Linked DNA regions of Homo sapiens. The protein of the gene in region 2 purifies or fractionates together with the protein of the main gene of each other region. This does not show direct contact. Each region holds a gene or a part of one and is shown on either strand. Other genes may lie near its edges.

Region 1 (4,378 bases), on a different chromosome or scaffold from region 2:
GAGGGAGGGCTTCCCGGATTCCTCAAAGGCCTGAGTCCTTATTTCAACCTCAGCATTGATTTCATATAAAATAAAATTGAATAATAAAATTCACATTAAAATTGCTGATATAAAATTAAAGGGAATCAGGAGCTGAAGAGAGCTTGGAGATCATGTAATCCAACCCCATATCTTACAGATAAGGAAACTGAAGTCCATGAAGGGACGTGGCTTGCCTGATGTCACAGTTAAGTTTATGGAAAGCCAGAACTGCCACTCAGGTCTCCTGAGCCTAATGCTTTTTTCCATCCACAGCATGGCTGAACTACAATATGAGATAAAGTTTACTTTAACAGCAACACGAGGCCGGGCATGGTGGCGCATGCCTGTAACCTCAGCACTTTGTGAGGCCAAGGCAGGCAGATGACTTGAGAGTCCAGGAGTTTGAGACCAGCCTGGGTGACATGGTGAAACCCCGTCTCTACAAAAAATACAAATATTAGCTAGGCGTGGTGGCATGCACCTGCAGTCCCAGCTACTCAGGAGGCTGAGGCAGGAGGATTGCTTGAGCCTGGGAGGTGGAGGTTGCGGTGAGCCAAGATCGCACCACTGTACTATGAACTAGGTTAGGCCTCCTTCATATTCAGTGAGGGTGCAAGTCCACAGGTTACTTTGTTCAAGCACAGAATGCCTGAATCCCACACTACAGGATGGGGAATTTTCCACGTTCATGGAATGTTGACACAGCAACAGTACCTTCAATCTTCCACCTTTCACCCATGCAAGCAAACGCCACTTTTGATTCTGACATTCTTTCCTTTGGCCATGAAATAATATGGCTCGAAAAAATCTTATTTCACTTCATCCTATTCCTTTTTAAAGAATTCATCTTTTAGATGAATTATAGAAGGCTGCTTTTAATATCAACCTCAAGGCTATGAACAGTCAGCTAAGATACAAAGATGTGAACAGCAGGCATGCATTCTAGGCGTTGGCTATTCTAGCAATCAAAGATCGAGACGTTTATGTCACCAAGCTAACCCCTGGGAGACCACGGTGGCCTTTCTCCACGCACTTCATCACTTAGACACGCCCATGTTGCCAATTGGCTTTAAAGAGTAGCCCAGAACTTGCCCAGTCACAGCAGGGTTCTCCAGTTCCCACTTTTGCAGCAATGCCTTGGAAGATGGTCTTGATGTGGGGCCTGTGTAAAGAAACAGTGTGGTTCAGTTAATGAGAAGAGACGGGCTGAGAGCCCATACCCATAGACACCAACATACCCATAGACACCAACCCCTATCTTTTCCTTTCTTTTTTTTTTTTTTTGAGACAGGGTCTCACGTTGTCACCCAGGCTGGAATGCAGTGGTGTGATCTCAGCTCACTGCAGCCTCCTCAACCTCCCAGGTTCAAGTAATCTTCCTGCCTCGGCCCCCTAAGTGGCTAAGACTACAGGTATGTGACACCACACCCAGCTCATTTTTTTGGATTTTGTAGAGATGGGGTTTTGCCATGTTGCCCAGATTGGTCTCGAACTCCTGAGCTCAAGTGATCCACCCACCGTGGATACCCAATGTGCTGGGATTACAGGCATAAGCCACCACCGCACTGGGCCCATCTTTTTCTTTCTAATGGGAGGTGGAAGTGCCCACAAAAAGATAATGAATGTGCTAAGTTCTCAAGGTCAACTGCAGACCCTTGACTGAAACTGGCCCCTCCTCCAGGTCCTGGTGGGCCCTCAAAGCAGACTGGACTATCGGACTGAGACTACAGACAGAAAGGCTGAGCAGAAGCATCACCAAAGCACCAGAAGAAATGTCTTCTTAGAGACAGGGTCTCACTCTGTTGCCCAGGCTGGAGTGCAGTGGCACAATCACGGCTCCCTGCAGCCTCAAACTCCTGGACTTAGGTGATCCTCCTGCCTCAGCCTCCCAAGTAGGTGGGGCTACAGGTGTGTGCCATCACACCCAGCTAATTAAAAACTTTTTTTTGTAGGGACAGGATCTTGCTATGTTGCCCAGGCTGGTGTTGAGCTCCTGGCCTCAAGCAATCCTCACACCTCAGCTTCCCAAAGTGCTGGGACCATAGGCGTGAGCCACCATGCCTGGCTAATTTTTTGTTGGTGGTGCAGAGATGGGGTCTCCCTATGTTGATGTGGCTGGTCTTGAACTCCTCGGATCAAGCACTCCTCCCACCTCAGCCTCTTGAGTCACTGAAATTACAGGCATAAGCCATCGCACCCGGCTCAGAAATTTCTACTGCAGCAGCAGCAGACAGTATGATTGCAAACAGCAGGCAATACGAAAGTTCCTTTAGAGATCCTCTTTTAATTTTTTCCCTTTTCTTTATTTCTCCTTATAATGGCTTTTAGCAAGTGAAGAGACCCTCTTTCATTTGTCTGGATGTGTGCTGCCAGGCACAGAATGGTTCTGGACATTTGGATTAAGAACCAGGCAGCGTTTTTGAGAGCTACATTACCATTCAGAGAAAGGCCGCTGTTCATTCCTTCCACAGCTCAGCACGCGGATATATTACTCTTGAGACTTTCCCTCACTGTTCTGCTCCCTAATGGCCAGTCAAGGCTTCCTCACAAAAAGTTTCTGGTACAGACATGAAATCTTACAGGGTTGCAAAGTTAACATTTAGGATTAGGGATGAAGACAGCCACACCGGAAACCGCAGAGCTTCACTGAACTTTTACAGTGTCCTTCTGGTAAAGGTGCCATTTGTACTTCTGCCACCACAGTATGAGGAAAGAGAACTGATGGAAACAACTGGAGCACTCCATATGTCAAATACTTTTACGTGCATTGTCTGCTGGTTGCCTTTCTAACTGCTCACTGTGCAGGTGCTTCGAGATAAGTATTTTCAAACCTTTTTTTTTTTTCTTAAGAAACAGGGTCTTGCTATGTTGTCCAGGCTGGCCTTGAACACCTGGGCTCAAGCAGTTCTCTCACCTCAGTCTCCTGAATAGCTGGCACTACAGGTGCAAGCCACTGCACACACAGCTGTTTAAACTTCTGAGAAGCAGAAAGGCCTCTCTACTTCTGTGTTTTATTAATAACACACTGAAGAGAATCCCCAGACTCATTCACCAGAAAGGTAATTAAAAAAATTATTTTTGGCTGGGCGCAGTGGCTCACACCTGTAATCCCAGCACTTTGGGAGGCTGAGGCAGGCAGATCACGAGATCAGGGGATCAAGACCATCCTGGCTAACACGGTGAAACCCCGTCTCTACTAAAAATACAAAAAATTAGCTGGGCGTGGTCGTGGGTGCCTGTAGTTCCAGCCACTTGGGAGGCTGAGGCGAGAGAATGGCGTGAACCTGGCAGGTGGGGCTTGCAGTGAGCAGAGATCGCGCCACTGCACTCTGCACTCCAACCTGGGCAACAGAGCAAGACTCCGTCTCAAAAAAAGAATCATTTTTTCTTTTTTACTGAGACCGAGTCTCGCTCTGTCACCCATGATGGAGTGCAGTGGTGAGATCTCGGCTCATTGCAACCTCTGCCTCCCAGGTTCAAGTGATTCTTGTGCCTCAGCCTCCCATGTAGCTGGGATTAGAGGTGCCCTCCACCATGCCCGGCTAATTTTTGTATTATTAGTAGAGAGTTTCACCATGTTGGCCAGGCTGGTCTTGAACTCCTGACCTCAAGTGATCCTCCCATCTCAGTCTCCCAAAGTGCTGGGATTACAGGCGTGAGCCACCATGCCCAGCCTTAAAGAATCATATTTCAGACCAGGCACGGTGGCTCACGCCTGTAATCCCAGTACTTTGGGAGGCCAGGGCAAGCGGATTGCCCACAATTATTTATATATATATCGGATTGCCCACAATTATTTATATATATGTGTGTGTGTGTGTGTGTGTGTGTATTTTTTGTTTGTTTTGTTTTGTTTTGTTTTTGAAACAAACTCTCACTCTGTCGCCAGGGTGAAGTGCAGTGGCGCGATCTCGGCTCACTAACCTCTGCCTCCTAGGTTCAAGCAATTCTCCTGTCTCAGCCTCCCAAGTAGCTGGGACTACAGGCGCACGCCACCATGCCCGGCTAATTTTTGTATTTTTAGTAGAGACAGGAATTTACCATGTTGGCCAGGATCGTCTAGATCTCCTGACCTGGTGATCTGCCTGCCTCAGCCTCCCGAAGTGCTGGGATTACAGGCGTGAGCCACCACGCCCGGCCAATTTATATTTTTTAATTAAAAAAATGTTTGTTTTACTTTTTTGTAGAAACAGGATCTCGCTATGTTGTCCAGGCTAGTCTTCAACTCCTGGGCTCAAATGATCATTCACCGCAGCTTCCCAAAGTGCTGGGCAGTGATTACAGGCATGGGCCACTATGCCCAGCCTGTTACCCACGATTATCACATTAAGTTACTTTTGGGTTATATATCAGCTAA
Region 2 (4,378 bases):
GTAGGAGAATCTGACAGCCACTTAAGTGTAGGTGAGATCACTTTTAAAAGATATGCTGAAGCCATCTCATTTTCTTGCTTCTTCACATCCACTGATTTGCAAACCACTGTATTAAAAACATTTCCCCACACTCTGAATGCTGAGATAGTAAGGGAAACCATTTCCTTCAAATATCTCAAAATATTTCAAAAATAGATGTCCTATGGACCCCAATTCCCATGTGGCTCCCCAGTTCAGCCAGTGAATGCCTGCCCCTTACGCTCTCTTTTCATGCATGGCTTCTGATACCGGCAGTCGCTTGTTTTCAAGCGGTTCTGGGAGATTATCATGAAGTTAAGCACATCACTGATGTTTATTCAAAGGCCCATGTGTCAATTCTCACTGTATGAGGATCTGCTTCAAGGGGTGGAGACACGGGAGATGGCCCCTCAGAGGTATCAGCAGAGAGAAATAAGTTAAAGGGAAACGAGGGGGAATGTGGATCATGGAAGATCACCAAATGGTTAGTGGCTGACCTGGCAAAATGACTGAATGGGTGTCCATGGCCAAGCCACCTGACCATCTGAGTAACCAGAACAGCTGTGGGGAGCCTGGCTACTGAAGAGGAGGAGGAAGTGCCTACATGGCATCGCGCTTCACTGGCACCCAGGTAGGCTGCATGGACACGTATCCCCCAACTTTCACTATCCTGCTATGATCACAGAGCTGAGCAATAAACATGTGCAGCGGGCTGTTGAATGAACAGAGCACATTCCTTTGGAGAGCTGGGGTAGAAACAAATGAAAAGAAAAACCCCCCAGGGCCATAGCAGCTGCAGACATCTGTGTTTTGACATCAGCTATTTTCAACAGGCTTTGGGGAAGAAAGGGGCCCAGTTGAACAAGCCCGTTACCAGAGCCTGTTAGCATGGAGCTCACTCTCCACCTCAGAGGGAGCAGCGAGGCAGGGTGGGGATGCTCATCGAAGGTGTGGGTTAAGAGGGGACGACCCTCAGAGGACCTGGCGACCTCTTATTTGACTGGAGGACCTCAGAAGCTGCTCTTGCAGCCTTCCCCACTCTGCACGGTTGAAGGAACAGAGAATCTCAATTTCCAGAAAGAATGCCTTACCACAGGCCCTGAGTGGTGTCCGGGCACAACCACCACTGATGACAGCAGGGAGAGCAGAGGACATCCCTACCCCAGAAAGAACAACTGGGGCCCAGGCAGGAAACTGCCCAGGACACACTGAACTTTCTCCAGGCTTGATGGCGCCTTGATTGATTTTTCTCTGAGGAGCTGCTGAGGGCACACTCCGCAGGCTCAGCCTAGCCACGCACTGCCTGCCATGCAACTGGTGCGGGGACAGGAACATGACTCAATCCAGGCCATAAGACTCAATCTTTGCACTTGAATTGGAACCCCTGAGTCCAGCCCCGGTTCTGCTGGGGTCACTGAGCTGGGAGAATGTCAGCCTGGAGCTGCTGCAGGAAAGTGGAGGGAGGCCAAATCCTGGTGACAACATTTACAACCCTGAATCTCAAACACCTAATGTCAGCGGCTGTTGTTTGGGGAAGTCAATCAATCCCCACCCCAAACACACTTTTTTTTTTCCTGCTTAAGATTAAAGTGGTTTTTCAGTTCTTTGGAACCAAAAGAGCACAGACTAGGATAATCAAGCTTGCGTTGGCACGACATGAAAAAAAAGTTGTGAGAGGTTTTTCTAGAAAAGTAAAAGACAGCAATGACTGCAAGAGGTCACGAAGAAGCTGCTGATCATTCCTTGGATATGTGCCATTCGCTGGAGACATGTGTGCTGGGAGGCTGATCAAAGGTGCTGGAGGGAAAAAGTCACCTCTGCAATGAAAATGTACGAGGATCCACAACCACATTCTATGTTAATGATCTCAATGTACAGCCCTTCCCTGAGAGAAACTAATTTGCCTTATGAAAAATGAAGCAGCCAACTTAAGCTATGGTGAGAAACCATTCACTAAACTTGGGAATGCCAACACAGGATGACAACATCTCCCCATTCCATGTCAACAAAGAGAAAATGCAAACAGAAGGAGGGGTCCAGATTGACTTCTAAAAAGAAGGTAAACTATGAAAACATGCTGGGTGGCATCCAGGCACAGCCATTACTGATGAGAGCTGTAGAAATGCAGTATATGAAACACTCCAATTACAGCTCAATCATACAAATCCTACATGTTTCTAACCCGATCCTGCCACTAATCTGTGTGCCCTTGATGGGCAAAACCATGCATGCCCATTCCTCCCAGAACTTCTGGCTCTGCAAAGCTCTACGTTGGGCAGTGACTTGAAATGCTCTGGGCTGATGGCACCAAGTGATGGCAGTGAGAAGCCTCTGCCCTTGAGTCCTCCACCACCTCCTTCAAGACAGCGGTCCTAGTTCCTCCTTTGATAACACCGGCTGGCTAATACCAACTCTGAGACACTGATAACTAAAATCAGTGTCTCCCTCCTACACAGATACAACACTCCTTTTAAAACCTAGTCTTCTTCCCTTTTGCTTACAGGTCTTGCTAGTTACTTCAAGATACCCCTCCCTCTCTTCCCTCTGCAAGTCAAAAAGCAAGCCACAGTGCTAAACAGGAAGACGGTCACAGGACAGTGTTTATGGTAAAACCAAAGTATCTCAGAGATTGGATATTTTGCAATATTAACCACGGGGATCTCTGGGAACAGGGAACTCTTCATTTTTGAAATGTTCTCTAGTTAGCAGGTGTTACTACTGAAATCAAAGGATAAGGGGAGGGGGCAAAGGAAACTTCACTTTGGGTAAAGAAACGGTCCTGAGTAGGAAGCATGAGAATGCTGTGCTGATAATCCTGGAGCAAGGAACAGGAAACGATCACTCAGAATCAGGTTTGGCAGCAGAAATTAACTTCCTCCTGTTCTGTTTTAATCAATTTGTCCCAAATTCTAAGACACTGCTGTTTCCAACTAGTTGAGATGTGCATGGACCAGGACTGACCCTGTAGGGGCAGGGCTTATTTAAATGTCTTTGGTCTTGAAGAGGAAGAGATGGGGGCTTTAGAGACACCAGGGAAGTGAACAGTAAATCTGGCTCCTGTGTTACCTCCATGCCCACAGCGCCTCAACCCTCACCCCATCCAAGGATCTTGGGCCATCACAAGCTTACCCCACTTGGGGAAGGTGGAGCAAGTCTTTCCTGGCACATTTTCTTTTACCTCATGCATTCTTAAAGTGGGTGCTATTGTCCCCAAAGAGACAAAAATTAGTTCTCTGGGGCAAAAAAACCCCCCTCAGCTTATAGAACAGCTTGTGACCCTCTAGAAGGCTACTGGCCATAAGCAGAAGTACAATATTATCTCTGATATTACAATTTTATTTTGGGGCAAATTAGGGGAAAAAAAAGTCTCACAAGGCTCCTAGGTGGGAGGGAGGTAGTGATCATGGCAAAAGATGGAGAAACATAGTTGTACCTTCAGCCCTAGGAGTATTCTGTGAGCATACATAGGAGACTTACAATGACTTTTACCTCCAACAATTTTTCAACTAGATTAAAAACACTATCAGTAACAAGACACTGGTGGGCACCAGACATCATCTCTGTTTTAAAAGCTTCCTGGCTTTACAATGCTGTGATGGGTTTTTGTTGTTGTTGTTGTTTCTGAGACCGAGTTTTTTTTTGCTCTTGTCGCCTAGGCTGGAGTGCAGTGGCACAATCTCAGATCATGGCAACCTCTACCTTCTGGATTCAAGTGATTCTCCTGCCTCAGCCTCCCAAGCAGCTGGGATTACAGGCACCCACCACCATGCCGGGCTAATTTTTGTATTTTTAGTAGAGAGGGGGTTTCACCATGTTGGCCAGCTGGTCTCGAACTCCTGACCTCAGGTGATCCACCCGCCTTGGCCTTCCAAAGTGCTGGGATTACAGGTGTAATTGTTTACTATCCAATGTAGAAGGCAAGACTGCCAGAAAGAAACCCTGTCCAAGCCACATGGGTCTGGGGCAGAGATGGTCTCCCCATCTGCCTGAAACCCTCACCTGAGAAGAGAATGGAGTTTGAGGACCTTCAAGAGTAGAGACTACCAGAGCCCTGCTGAGGGTCTGAAAGGTACAACACAGCCGCTACGGCATGGGAAGACCCAGGAGAATAAGGAACTGCACCTGCCTGCAGGGCCTCCTCCAGCTGTCACAAAGACAGGCAAAGGATCACATCTTCTGTCGAGCATCTGTGAAAGAATACATACACACATACAAGGGAAAGGTTTTTTTGTTTGGTTGTTTTTTTAGATGGAGTCTTGCTCCATCGCCCAGGCTGGAGTGCAGTGGCGGGACCTCGGCTCACTGCAACCTCCACATCTGGGGTTCAAGCGATTTTCCTGCCTCAGCCTCCCAAGTAGCT
Region 3 (4,378 bases), on a different chromosome or scaffold from region 2:
CCAGCATCACGAGAAATGGTCAATGACACAAGAGGGAAGCAGCATTCCAGACAGCAGAGGCAGCGAGGACTGGCCACACCTGCCCCTCCAGGGGCACCCAGAAAGGAGCCGCCTCTAACCCTCCCAACTGCCCCCACCTCCCGGACAAGACACAGACGCAGGGCTGCAAGTGGATGGAAGACTCGCATGCCCGAGCCGGCTGCCACACGCACAGCAATCTTAATCCATGACCAGCACAGCAACTTCTTAGCACCCAAGTGACAATGCTGGTCTGTGCCACATCTGAGGCCTGTCAGACAATTTCAAACCCAGGTTCTCAGGGAAGGGTCTGGTGGGAAGCACCCAAGCGCTGGGTCCTGGGTCCTGCAGAGCCTGGACTTGGGTGGACACTGTGCTGCGACCCCACCCACTGTGTAAGGAGTCTCCAAGGCTGCAGCTCGGCTCAGCTCAGCACAGTATAGACGGCCTAAGAGGGGTGGGGAGGGGGCCCAGCGTGTGCATCCCTCCCAACCCCATGAGACCAACCACACCCAAGGCCCAGCACAGACATGTGGGTGCACGTGTTTCTCTACTCAACTGAAATAAACGTCTCACAGAACATACCCCGCCCCACGCAATTCACGGGATATTGTCTATTCTGCCCTACTCCCGTCTGTGCTGTCTGCGACTCATTGTACGCGGGCGCCACGGCCTCTAGCACGCGGTCTCCACGCACTGCTATTTTACCGACCCTGAGCCCCACGTGCAGGGTGCTCAACAAGACCATGGAGTCACCGGTGAGCCCCCAACAGCTCAGGGTCACAAGTCAGCACACTCAGAGGCCACCTCGGACGTCACCAGCCTCGGCACAAACACCCGGGATGCGCTCGAGACCCCACTCACCGCTCTAGGCCGCGCATAGTGTGCACAGAAGAGACTGATGATCCCAGTCCCACAGCCCACGTCCAGGATGACTTTATCCGTCAGGGATTCTTTATTCTGCAGGATGACACTGTGGTATTTAGTTGTTCGTGGCTGGTCTGCCAACATCTCCAAGTGGAGTTTCTGGAAGAAATGCACATTCAGAATCACTGCCTGTGACCTAGAGCCATGCTGAGGTCTGGACTGAGATGGAGGGTCAGAGCCACAGCTGATGACCCCTGACCCCAACACCCCTATGGAAGACTATGGAAGGCCTGGACATCACTGTCAACCAAGTTAATCTCATTGGTATTTAGAGAACACTTCACCCACCCCCTTATAACAGTAATAATACACAAAAAATACCTAGGAACAAATTTAACAAGAAAGGTGCACAACCATGTATGACAAAGAGATATTGTCCTTATCTTAAAATACTAAGAGATATTAAACAAAGCTTAAGTAATCAGAGACTGAGAGTCAATGTTATAAAGATGTCAGCTCTCCCAAAATTAACATAAACATTCCATGCAGTACCTACTAAAGGAGAAAGCACAACAAAATGATAATAAAATTAGTTTCAAAACAGTAAGTGCCCAAGGCTAATGAGGAAAATGCTTTAAAAAAAAAAGAACTGCTGGAGACCTAGCTCTTGCAGATCCTACAAAGGTGCAGTGATGGAAATGACGAAGCACTGGGAACTGCAGTAAACAGACCAGTGAAACAACAGGAATTCTACAGCAGACCCCTGAAATCCAGAGCAGGACAAACGCACCGTTTCACATCAACGCGAAGGGAACTGTCCAGTAACTGAGGCTGGGGTCGCTGGAGATTTGTGGGCATACATTAGGGCGGAATTTTACATTATATTTTTTACAACAAATAATTTCTAGATTTTTTATTATTTAAAATCTCATTGTTTAAAATAGAATCAGAAGGCCAGGCAGGGTGCCTCACCCCTGTAATCCCAGTACTTTGGGAAGCTAAGGTGAAGGTCCCTTAAACCCAGGAGTTTGAGGATACAGTGCACTATGACTGCACCACCGCACTCCAGCCACTCATACGACAGAGTGTGACACCATCTCTAAAAAACATAAAAAACAAAAATAAAATAACACAGAATCATAACAGTTCTGAAAACAAAAGTGTGGGTATTTATAATCTTATAGTGAGGAAGGTTTTTCACAAAGAAAAGAAAAAGAAGTCACAAAGAAAAGAAAACCATATTAGGCTATACAAAGAAAAAAGTTGTACGTGGGAAAAAATTTCACAAAGTCACAAAACTTCACAAATTCAGGCTAAATTACTTAACACACGAATCAACAAAAATCAAAAGGGGCAAATAATATGAAAGTTTACAAAAAAAGAAAAAATACAAAAGGCCCATAAACACATAAAAGATAATCAATCTTACTTAAAAAATGGAAATCAAAACTAAAAGATGCCATATTTAACTTTTAAGATCAAAGTCCTTTTTCACTTTGATTTGTGGTAGGGAAATGAGCTTTCACACACCATCATGCCACGGTCTGAAATGTCTCCAAAAATCCATGTACTGAAACTTAATCGTCAGTGTGATGGCATTAAGAGGCCACCTTTGGAGGTTACTATGAAAGGGTTTGTGGTGAAAGAGGTGCTCCCAGCCCTCCCGCCTTCACCACGTGAGGACAGCCATGAGGCGCCATCTTGGACACCAATGCCAATGCCTTCCCAGCCTCCAGAACTGCGAGAAACAAAGCTTTGTTCTTCATAATTCACTCAGTCTAAGGTATTTTGTTACAGCAGCACAAACAGACCAAGTGTATAATTAGCAAATCTTTCTGGAGGGCGAACTGGCAAGATCCACTTAAGGAAACCACATGTACACACTACACACACACACCCCGTAGGAATTTACCCTATAGAAATTCTAAACAGCATTTAACAGGATTATACAGGACTCCATTACAGCATTATTTATCATGATAAAAAGCTATTAAATAACCACTGTCCAAATATCAACAGGACCCTTTTAAAGTAACACAACGCTCTGCAGCTGTTATAAAGAGTGACAGGTGCCAATATGAGAGATCTTCAAAATACTACAGCTACGTGAAAAGAGCAAGGTGAAGACCTGAGTGGTGGAACAATGCCTTTTCTATACATTAAAAACGTAAAATACATTAGGTGTCACTTGGACTTCATAAGCACAGAGGAATCTGGTGGGCAGTGGTTCTTTGAGCTGAGAGGCGGCAGAGGTGGGAGGCTGGAATTGGCTTTTCATTATGTATCTTTCCTTAACGGATAGAAATCACTAACCATGTACAGACATGAATAGTTTTTAACACTTTTAATTGTGAAATATGGCATACCTGCGAAAAAGTGCAATAAAAAGTATCTGCAGAGTTAGTCAAGTATTGTTATATAGCAAACACCTCTATACCTATATCCAACCCCAGAACACTGCCAGCATGTCAGAACTCCTGACTCAGCCACGCTGGTCCCAGAGCCTCCCCTACCAGCAGGTAACCTCCATTCAACCAACAGGGGAGCCACTCCTGCCCTCAGTCAGTCTCAGCACCCATGCACACTCACAAACAGTACCTTCCGGCCGGGCGCAATGGTTCATGCCTGTAATCCCAGCCCTTTGGGAGGCTGAGACAGGAGGATCACTTGAGGCCAGGAGTTCAAGACCAGTCTGGCCAACATGGCAAAACCCCCTCATTAAAAATACAAAAATTAGCCAGGCATGGTGGCACGCACCTGTAGTCCCAGGTACACAGGAGGCTGTGGCAGGAGAATTGCTTGAACCCGGGAGGCAGAGGCTGCAGTGAACTAGGATCCTGCCACCACACTCCAGTCTGGGTGACAGAGCAAGACTACGTCTCAAAAAAAAAAAAACAAAAACAAACAAAAAACCTTCTAATATGGCCTCTTAACTTTATATAATTGAGTCAAACGTTATAGATTCTTTGCCCTATTCCTTCTTTCAACTAACATCATTTTTATAACATTCATCCTGCAAGTAACTGTTTTCATCTAGTTTTAAAATGTAACCAGAGATTGTTGCCTGGACCATCGGGTTATAGGCATTTCTCCATGGTGGGGAAAAAATTTCGGTAAGCTATTTAGAAGCTGGGCTTTTATTATTTTTTTAGGGACAGAGTCTGGTTCAATCACCCAGGCTGGAGTGCAGTAGCGCAATCATAGCTCACCACAGACTTGAACTCCTGGCTTCAAGTGATGCTCTGACCTCAGCTTCCCAAAGTCCTGTGATTACAGGCATGAGCCACCACACCTGACCTAAGTAGTATTATTCATAGATTTATAGAATTTTTTCTATTTTTTTTTTTTTTGAGACAGGCTCTCGCTCTGTAGCCCAGGCTGAAGTGCAACAGCGCCATCATGGCTCACTGCAGCCTTGGCCTCCAAGGCTTGAGCAATCCTCCCACTTCAGCCTCTCGAGTAGCTGGGACTACAGGCGTGCACCACCATGCCC
Region 4 (4,378 bases), on a different chromosome or scaffold from region 2:
CCAGACCACGTTCCCGTCTTGCAGTATGCAGGTAATGGACTCGGATCCCTGGGTCTTGACAAAGCCATCATCACAGTGGAAAGAAACCGAGCTCCCGAGTAGAAACCTGTCACCAAAACGTCGTCCGTTTATAGGAATGCCAGGATCATGGCACTCATTCTGACCAAATGCTGAAAGAAAAAGAAGAAGAAAAAAGGAATAAAAATACTTGAGTATTAATTACATGTATTAAAAAAGAAGAAAACAGAACAAGCTTATAAAGCATTCATATAATGTATATAATTATATAAATTTCAGTTGTATCATTCATAGATAGATAATACATTAATAAATAGGATATCAGTGTCTAGTGAGAAAGAGCGAGCAGGGAGATGAACAAATATAACTATCATTTATGCAGCAATTTAGGGTTTGAAAAGCACTTTTCATAGGAGCTTAGACAAAGAGAGAACTGATATGGTGGGTGGTAGAAAGTGTCTGGGCTCAAGATTTCTCTCGTTAGAATCCTGACTTTTTTTCTTACTATGTCAGAGGACTCTGACATTGGGCATATGACTCTGACGCTCTAAGCCTAGCTATCTTTATTTACAGAATGAGAGACTACTAAATTTATATCCTCTAGTTACTATAACACTAAATGAAACAATTATTGTCCAATTCTAAGTATTCTGCCTAAGAAACTAGGCAGTTAGCATATCATAATGTAGTATTACTCATATTAATATTCTCTCACTTTATTCCATCTACAGTGCATTTAAGTAGATATTCTTACATAAAATAGGTTTTAAAATGAGGAGCCTAAAGCAAAGAGAATGAGCTGTCATTAAACTTCACTAATTACATACTAGTGCTGTATTTTAATCCTTGGCTCCTGACATCATATTACACAGTTGTTTTTACTACACTACTTTGTTGCAAGAAAGATGCATAAGTGGCTGAGTGGGTGGGTGGATGGTTGTATAGATGGGAGGAAGAATAGAAGGAAGAAAGGAAGAATGGCTGGCTGGCTGGATGAATGGAGGGATGGAAAGAAAGATGAATGGAGGGATGGATGGAAAGATGAATGGAAGGATGGATGGATGAATGCATGCATGCATGGATGGATGGACAGATGGAAGGATGGATAATGGAAGGATATGGATGAATGGATGGATGGGTGAAATAATAGATAAATGGACAAAACGATGGAAGGGAAGGATGAATGGAAGGATATGGATTGATAGATGGATGGAAGGATAAAAGGAATGATAGACGGAATAATGGATGAATGGATGGACACATGGATGAATGATGAATGGATGGATGGAAAGATGGATAAACAATGGATTGATGGAACGATGGATGGATGGAAGGATGAATGGATGGAAGGATGGATGGATAGATGGAAGGATGGATGGAAAGATGGATGGAAGAAAGGATGGATAGATGCATGGATGGATGAAATGATGGATGGATGAATGAAAGGATACAGATGGACAGATGGATGGATGAATGGAAGAATAGATGGAATAATGGTTTGGTGGGTGCATGGATGGATAGAATGATGGATGGATGAATGGATGGATGGATAAATGGAAAACCGGAGAGAAAGAGATGTAAGGAGATGAAAGAGAGAGGAGATCCAGCTTCTTAGTTTAGGAGTGATGAAGCCACCTATCTAAATACAGTGATACATTTGTTTTTAAGTTTTCAGGATAACACTATAATTTTACTACTGTCATTTTCATAATGATTATAAAACCTCTGAAGTATCAACCTTGAAATGCAACTTCACATACATATAAGCAAAATGGGAACATGTAAGTAAAATGAGAACTTGGATGTGTTGACTGTGTGGGCGTACTTACTGGTGTAAGTGATGTTGAACCCTCTGCCAGTAGTGGAATGGTCAGACTGAAATTCCAAGCGAACTATATGCCCACTGCTGGCCAGCTGGGAAGGCACTTCATTGCCAGAAAAAGTACCCAGGACAGTTATGTCAGAAATGCCATCATCCTTGACCGCGAGAAAGTCAAACTGAGGCTCAACATCAAAATCATTAAAGATTAGGTGAATTCGACTTCCTGGCTCCGAGATAATCAACCAGACACAGTTCATGTTGTTCCCATATTCCTCTGGATAATTTGGTGACAGAATAATCCCAGATGATGCCGTAAAGTTGAAGAAACATGAAACTGTGAAGATGCAAATATATTTTCAAACAGTTATGCACATATCCAAAGAATTGCCATGTGAAACAGACAGCTAAGAACCTGGAAAGGCAATTCATGCCTGCAAATAGCTATGATGATCCAACTATTTTAATATAAGTAATTCTGGACCATAATGTTTTCTCCTTTCCTAATTTGTAAGTCGAATATTTCATTATCATATAGAGCACAACCAGAACCTATACATAATCAAGCACAAGCGTGGTTCAAAAATGATCCTTTCCAGTTGACTGAAAACGTGTGCCAAATATTATAATTTCTAGTTATAATTTTCTGCCTTCAGAAGAGCAAATATTAATATGGAAAAGTATATTCCTATATCATAGGAACAATTCAGCCTGCTCTTTCATAACTTTTAAATTTATATTTTATACTTTCCTGTGAGTGCATTTTCTCCAGTAATTTAAAATTTTTATTAGTTACAGGGTAAACATGAATAAATAAATAACTTGGAAACATCAGATCATGTTCTAGTTGGATAATATAAAGTATTTTGAAAAATTTACTTTTAAGAATGTGTACTTAAAATCATATATATTATATAAATAATTTTTTGGAGGGAGAAACTGTTGGATTTATCTCTAGAATACATTTTTGCTTCTTATTCCATATAATTTTGTACACACTTTTCAGCCTTTGCTATAGTTATTTACAAATAAAAAAAACCTCTCCTTTAAAATCGACTGTGAAGCCTTTTCTACTTGTTAAAATAGTATTCTTAAGAGGAAGTGGGCAGCTCATCAACTGAATTCCAAACCAATACCACCACCCATGCTCGCACTGGTGAACAACTTGTGTTTAAGTGTTATACAGCATTATTAAGTCACAAAGGACTCTGTTGCTGTACTGATGTCTGATACAGCAGATCATCACTGGCTTTTGATGGAAACAACGATATATGTGATGACCCTTTCTGGTAGGAAACGTTCAAGTACATTTTGTCGAGTAGATGTAATGAAACTATAAATTAGTTTTTACTAAATGAAGAAAGCAGGCAAGTTGGTGTTCGAGAACGTCCTTGCACGTTTCCAGTAAATGTGGCACCCCGAGCCATTCTGAAAGCTGCCCTCCCTAAATGGGCGGTCTGTGTCTTTCTCCTTTTCTCCCCTTGCAAGATCCTTGCAGGACAGGAGGGAGTCCAGGTCAAGGCATAATACTCACATACACAGCTGGGCTTGTTGCCAGACCACTGATTGTTCTGCTGACAGGTGATAACTCTCTCCCCCACCAGCTCAAAGGCCGCCGGGCATTCAAAGGTGAGTGTATCTCCATGGAGGAAACTGCTGCCCGTCCGCTTCCCATAGGCGGGGATTCCAGGATCCCCACACCCTCCCTTTTCAATTTCTGAAAATGGAAAAACAAATGAACCCTTAAAAAAACACACACAAGGAATATTTTTATCTCTACAACTTAGAAAGTAAATACGTGGCTTCTTTTTGCTGAACTAAACATCATTTTTGTAAAGTGTTTCTAAAGGATATTCAATTGATCTTAAATTTAATTTCAAATACCAGAAAAAGAATGTCATTTCAAATGAAGGGAAAGGTATTTAATTTGCTATCTTTTAAGGGATACACGTGGCTACACAGATACGCTGACAACACAAATGCTGCAATTAATCGGTGCATCTTCTGGATACCTCCGATCTTTTATCTGCAATTGCTACTACTAAAATGCAAATACCAGTTTAATTTTCAACTATGTGCTTTTTGCTATAAACAATACAAATAATATTCTTCATTCCCTACTGAGTATTTAAATAAATAGAATCTATTTGAATATTCTTTCCCTAAAATGAATGTTAACACTCACTTATGAAGCAGAATGAATAACAGTTTGGTCTACAGAGGAAAACAAAATATTCAGAATCAATCTTTCATTAAAACATCACTGTAATAACATATGCGTCCAAATACACCAAACCTATATTTCAAATGTTGATCTGTCTCAAATGTTAACTACACAGAATGTTTTCATTAAAATATTTTATTTATTTATTCATTTAAAAGACTATTTTTGAGAGCCACTGTGTGTCAGGTCCTGTTCTAGGTAAGGGCTTAGTGAATAAATGAGACAAAATCCTCGCACACATGGGGCTGGATATGATTTGGCTGTGTCCCCACCTAATTCTCATTTTGAATCCCACGTGTTGTGGCAGGGATCTGGTG
Region 5 (4,378 bases), on a different chromosome or scaffold from region 2:
CAATATCCAAAGCAGGAAAATCTTATACATTATATTCTTGGGGAGATAAGAGAAGATATTGCATCCTGAAAACCAGAATGCTACAAAAATGGAACATTCAGAGAGCAAAAGAGCTCTCAGAAATTAAAAATCTGATAACAGAGAAGAAAAATTCAGTAAACAGGTTGGAAGATAAAGTTAAACAGGAGATTCAGAAAAAAATACAGATAAACTTAGAAGGGAGGAAACAAAAAATACAACGATGACAATCCAACAAAACTGTGAAGCTCCCAAAATTAGGCTCATTCTAGTAGGAGGACTGCAATTCAAGGAATCAGAGTTCATTTTTCCCTTGGCCTCCTTGGGGGACTGGATCCAGGACCTCTATGGATACCAAAATCCATGGATGCTCAAGTCCCTGATATAAAATGGTGTAGTATTTTGCATATAACCCACACACATCCTCATACATACTTTAAATCATCTCTACATTACTTATAATACTTAATACAATGTAAAAGCCAAGCAAATAGTTGCTACTCTCTGTGCACACACACACACACACACACACACACACACACAAACACACACACATGTATTTTATTTATTTATTTATTTTTGAGACAGTGTTTCACTCTGTCACCCAGGCTGGTGTGCAGTGGTATGATCATGGCTCACTAGCCTCGACCTCCTGAGCTCAAGCGATCCTCCTACTTAGGCTTCCTGAGTAAGTGGGACCGCAGGTGCATACCACCATGCCCTGCTAATTAAAAAAAAAAATTTTTTTTTTTTTTTGGTAGAGTCTCCCTATGTTGTACAGGCTGGTCTCAAACTCCTGGGCTCAAGCAATCCTCCTGTCTTGGCTTCCCAGTGTTGGCATTATAGGCATGAGCCACAATTGAAACTGCCTTTGCAAAAATTATAACTGAGGAAATTATGACAGTGAAAGAAATCAGACTTCATTGACTCTATCTTGTTTCTAACCCTTAAGCTGTCCTTGTGGGATTCCTGGGCTTAGGCCGAACTAATTGTAGGAAGGAATTCAGTTCGTGGCTTGACTCTGAAAGAAAATTGGTAACAGCCCTTTCCCAATAAGACCCCCTTCTTGCCTGGGGTCCAGTCTGACTTTGCAGGACTAACAAATTAGCTACAAGATTAGAAATTACAATTTAGAGGTCATGCAGCCTCTGGCTCCAAGAGTCTGAACCTCCTCAAATTGCTCCTGGGGATAACATCACTATTGTAAAACCTAAGATCAGTGCGTGAGATATTTTCCAGACCCTGTACTCGATGGATCAGCTGACACCACTCAGACCAGTAATCTGGCCCAACCAGTTCTGCCATTGCACCGAGGAACAGAAGACAGCAAGAAAAACCTAACTTGGCACCCCCCATGATTCCATCTCCAACCTGACCAATCAGCACTCCCCACTCCCCAAGCCACTACCTGCCAAATTATCTTTAAAAACTCTCATCCCTGAATGCTCAGGGAGACTGATTTGAGTAATAACAAACCTCTGGTCTCCCGCAGAGCTGGCTCTGCATGAATTACTCTTTCTCCATTACAATTCCCCTGTCTTGATAAATTGGTTCTATCTAGGCAGCAGGCAAGGTGAACCCACTGGGCAGTTACACCACGCCTGGCCTCTGCTGTTGATTTATGTATTTTTTATTGCTGTATTGCTATTATTATTTTTTGAATATTTTCCATCTGTGGTTGGTTGAATCGTGGATCCAGAACCCACAGACAGGAAGGGCTGACTGTAGCTCTGTTCACACCGTGCTCCCAGACACAGCATATCCTCTCCCTAACTCTTGTCTCACTAAATCACAGCCTCCCAATCTGCTTAATGCTCAGCTCCACTGTCTCTTTTCACACAAATCCTTCTTTCATCTCCCCATCACCACTTTCTGCATTGAGGCCCTGTCCTTGGACTATCCTTTCCCTGGTGTTTACTCATTATGGACCCCCACAGCTCTCCTTCAGTACATCTCCTGCTCCTTGCCACGTGATTGCTCATATAATTTAATTTTGTATTCCTGGACATACTGTAAGGCAGTGTTCTTCACATTTTGAAAAAAAATCACAATCCACAAGAAGGAAAGCATTTTTTACAGCCTGTCTTATCATGAATATACACATAGTTAAAGTTTCACAAAGTAATGCTTTACCCTTATGGATGAGATGCATCCTGGCTTTTTTTTTGTTCCTTCCCCTATCCTGTTTTCTTCTCTTCTACTCTACTGGAGTGAATTTTATTCCATCCCATTAGAAGAAGGAAAGTTGGTCTATGTTAATTTTACCATCTGGTAATGAAACATTATTATAGTTTTAACAATCTGCAATAAAGCCTTTATGGGCAGAAACTATACCACAGAGCTTTACATGTGAGAAGTGCAACAGATATTTATTTGATTAAGGTGCTGTGTCTCCTAACAATGATTATGAAAAACAGACACATGGTAGGGAACCTGGCTGCCCTAGACTGGTCAAATAGGTTTTCATATAATATCCTAGACTGAAGATTCACAACTAGGGAAGAGGGTGTGACTCCCAGGGGGACAGAAGGTGTCTCTGGAGGAAGGCAGGACTGTACGGCTGTGAGTGGCAAGTGTAGTCTCAATGAGCATATTTAATATTTATTTTATTTTTGAGACAGAGTCTTGCTCTGTCACCCGGGCTGGAGTGCAGTGGTGTGATCTCTGCTAAGAGCAACCTTCACCCCCCAGGTTCAAGTGATTCTTCTGCCTCAGCCTCACAAGTAGCTGAGACTACAGGCGAACGCCACCACTCCCAGCTAATTTTTGTGTTTTTAGTAGAGATGGGGTTTTGCCACATTGGACAGACTGGTCTCGAACTCCTGACCTCAGGTGTTCTGCCCACCTCGGCCTCCCAAAGTGCTGGGATTACAGGTATGAGCCACTGTGCCCGGCCTTAATATTGTAATTTTAACCCTGAGTGCCAAGTTTGTACTTAAATCCCCCTTCACATGGGGTAGAGGAAATTGCGCCAGACCAGGAATCATGAGGCAGCAAGTCAGCCTTGACTGTGGGGCACCGTGCTGAATCATTCTGAGGCTGCTGTGAAGCCCTCCATCTGGTGAATCTGACACTTCCAAAGAGCCTTCAGTAGCAAACTGTTAAGTAAACTTAGGGTGTTTTGCTCTTTCTGTTGCTGCAGAGAATTCCAGAACTCCCCTTTCATTTGAGAGCGCACCTACCCTTGGCACTTGTAATGTTTTAAATTCCAGAAACACTATCCTGTGAATCACAGAAGTTCAGAACCTAAAATGGTTTTAAAGTTTACCTAATCTAACTAATTTTATCAAGGAGAAAATGAAGAACCAGAGAGACTAAGTTGCTCAAAGTGATGTAACTACTGAATGGTGAAACTGAAACAAAAATTCCAGTTCCCAAACTCTAGTCTACTCCAGTCTAATACTCGTTGCAAGGTTCTCTAAAGCTATGGGGGGTGAAGTGAGCATTTAAACCTCTGTTTCTTTTCTTTATCCTCCTTTCTTTCCTCTCTCTGTCTTTCTTTTTTTCTTTCGTTTCCCCCTCCCTCCCTCCCTCCCTCCCTTCCTTCCTTCCTTCCTTCCTCTCTCTCTCTCTCTTTCTTTCTCTTTCTTACAGGGTCTCATGGTTGCTCAAGCTGGAGTGCAGTGGTACAATCTTGGCTCACTGTAACTTCAGCCTCCTGGGCTCACGTGATCCTCCCACCTCATCCTCCTAAGTAGCTGGGACTACAGGTGTGTGCCACCATGCCCAGCTAATTTTTTTTGTATTTTGTTTTCTCTGTCTTCTTTTGTAGAGACAGGGTTTCACCACGTTGCCCAAGCTGGTCTCAAACTTCTGAGCTCATGCGATCCACCTATGTCAGCCTTCCAAAGTGTCTTTGCTTTTTTTTTTTTTCTTTTCCTCTCTCTCTCTCTCTCTCTCTCTCTCTCTCTTTCAGATGGGGTCTTGCAATGTTGCCCAGTCTGTAACCTCTCTCTTTAGCCACTGTGTTAGATACTTTGGGCGGACAGTTGTATGCCCATATCAAATTCAGAATAGAGGTATCAGAAGTCATTTTACGCAGTTACTTCTTTTACAAATGGGAAGACCAAAAACAAGATCTCACTGGAGAAAGAGCTAACTGGCTCTTTCCTTTGGTCTTTTTCTTCTTTTATTCATTTAACCAACAACTACTGAGTATCTACCATGTGCTGAACATTGTTACAGGTGCTATAAGGGAAGATGCCAGGAAAACAGAATGTTATCATCTAATGATATTTTTAGGGGGCAAGGAGTGCCAGGGCAGTATGGGAACACAGGAAAGGACCACTTAGGTTAGTTTATGGGGCATGGGTGTATGTGATAACATGTTTGGGGAGGTCAAGCTGACTTTGAGGTGGTC

What was found.
Region 1: the proteins of AKR1B1 (region 2) and PGD fractionate together in Homo sapiens (co-fractionation; one large-scale study listed by BioGRID). This does not show direct contact.
Region 3: the proteins of AKR1B1 (region 2) and PRMT2 purify together in Homo sapiens (co-immunoprecipitation; one study listed by IntAct). This does not show direct contact.
Region 4: the proteins of AKR1B1 (region 2) and CSMD1 purify together in Homo sapiens (co-immunoprecipitation; one large-scale study listed by IntAct). This does not show direct contact.
Region 5: the proteins of AKR1B1 (region 2) and HEBP1 fractionate together in Homo sapiens (co-fractionation; one large-scale study listed by BioGRID). This does not show direct contact.

The regions. Positions count from the first base shown.
Region 1 is NC_000001.11:10,404,876-10,409,253, reverse strand, and holds part of PGD (6-phosphogluconate dehydrogenase, decarboxylating), read right to left. Parts: intron 1,184-4,378; coding exon 1,114-1,183; intron 1-1,113. UniProt on the Homo sapiens protein: Catalyzes the oxidative decarboxylation of 6-phosphogluconate to ribulose 5-phosphate and CO(2), with concomitant reduction of NADP to NADPH.
Region 2 is NC_000007.14:134,451,955-134,456,332, forward strand, and holds part of AKR1B1 (aldo-keto reductase family 1 member B1), read right to left. Parts: intron 1-4,378. UniProt on the Homo sapiens protein: Catalyzes the NADPH-dependent reduction of a wide variety of carbonyl-containing compounds to their corresponding alcohols.
Region 3 is NC_000021.9:46,645,124-46,649,501, reverse strand, and holds part of PRMT2 (protein arginine N-methyltransferase 2), read right to left. Parts: intron 1,045-4,378; coding exon 883-1,044; intron 1-882. UniProt on the Homo sapiens protein: Arginine methyltransferase that methylates the guanidino nitrogens of arginyl residues in proteins such as STAT3, FBL, histone H4. Acts as a coactivator (with NCOA2) of the androgen receptor (AR)-mediated transactivation.
Region 4 is NC_000008.11:3,406,052-3,410,429, forward strand, and holds part of CSMD1 (CUB and sushi domain-containing protein 1 precursor), read right to left. Parts: intron 3,555-4,378; coding exon 3,372-3,554; intron 2,175-3,371; coding exon 1,848-2,174; intron 171-1,847; coding exon 1-170. UniProt on the Homo sapiens protein: Potential suppressor of squamous cell carcinomas.
Region 5 is NC_000012.12:12,989,590-12,993,967, forward strand, and holds part of HEBP1 (heme-binding protein 1), read right to left. Parts: intron 1-4,378.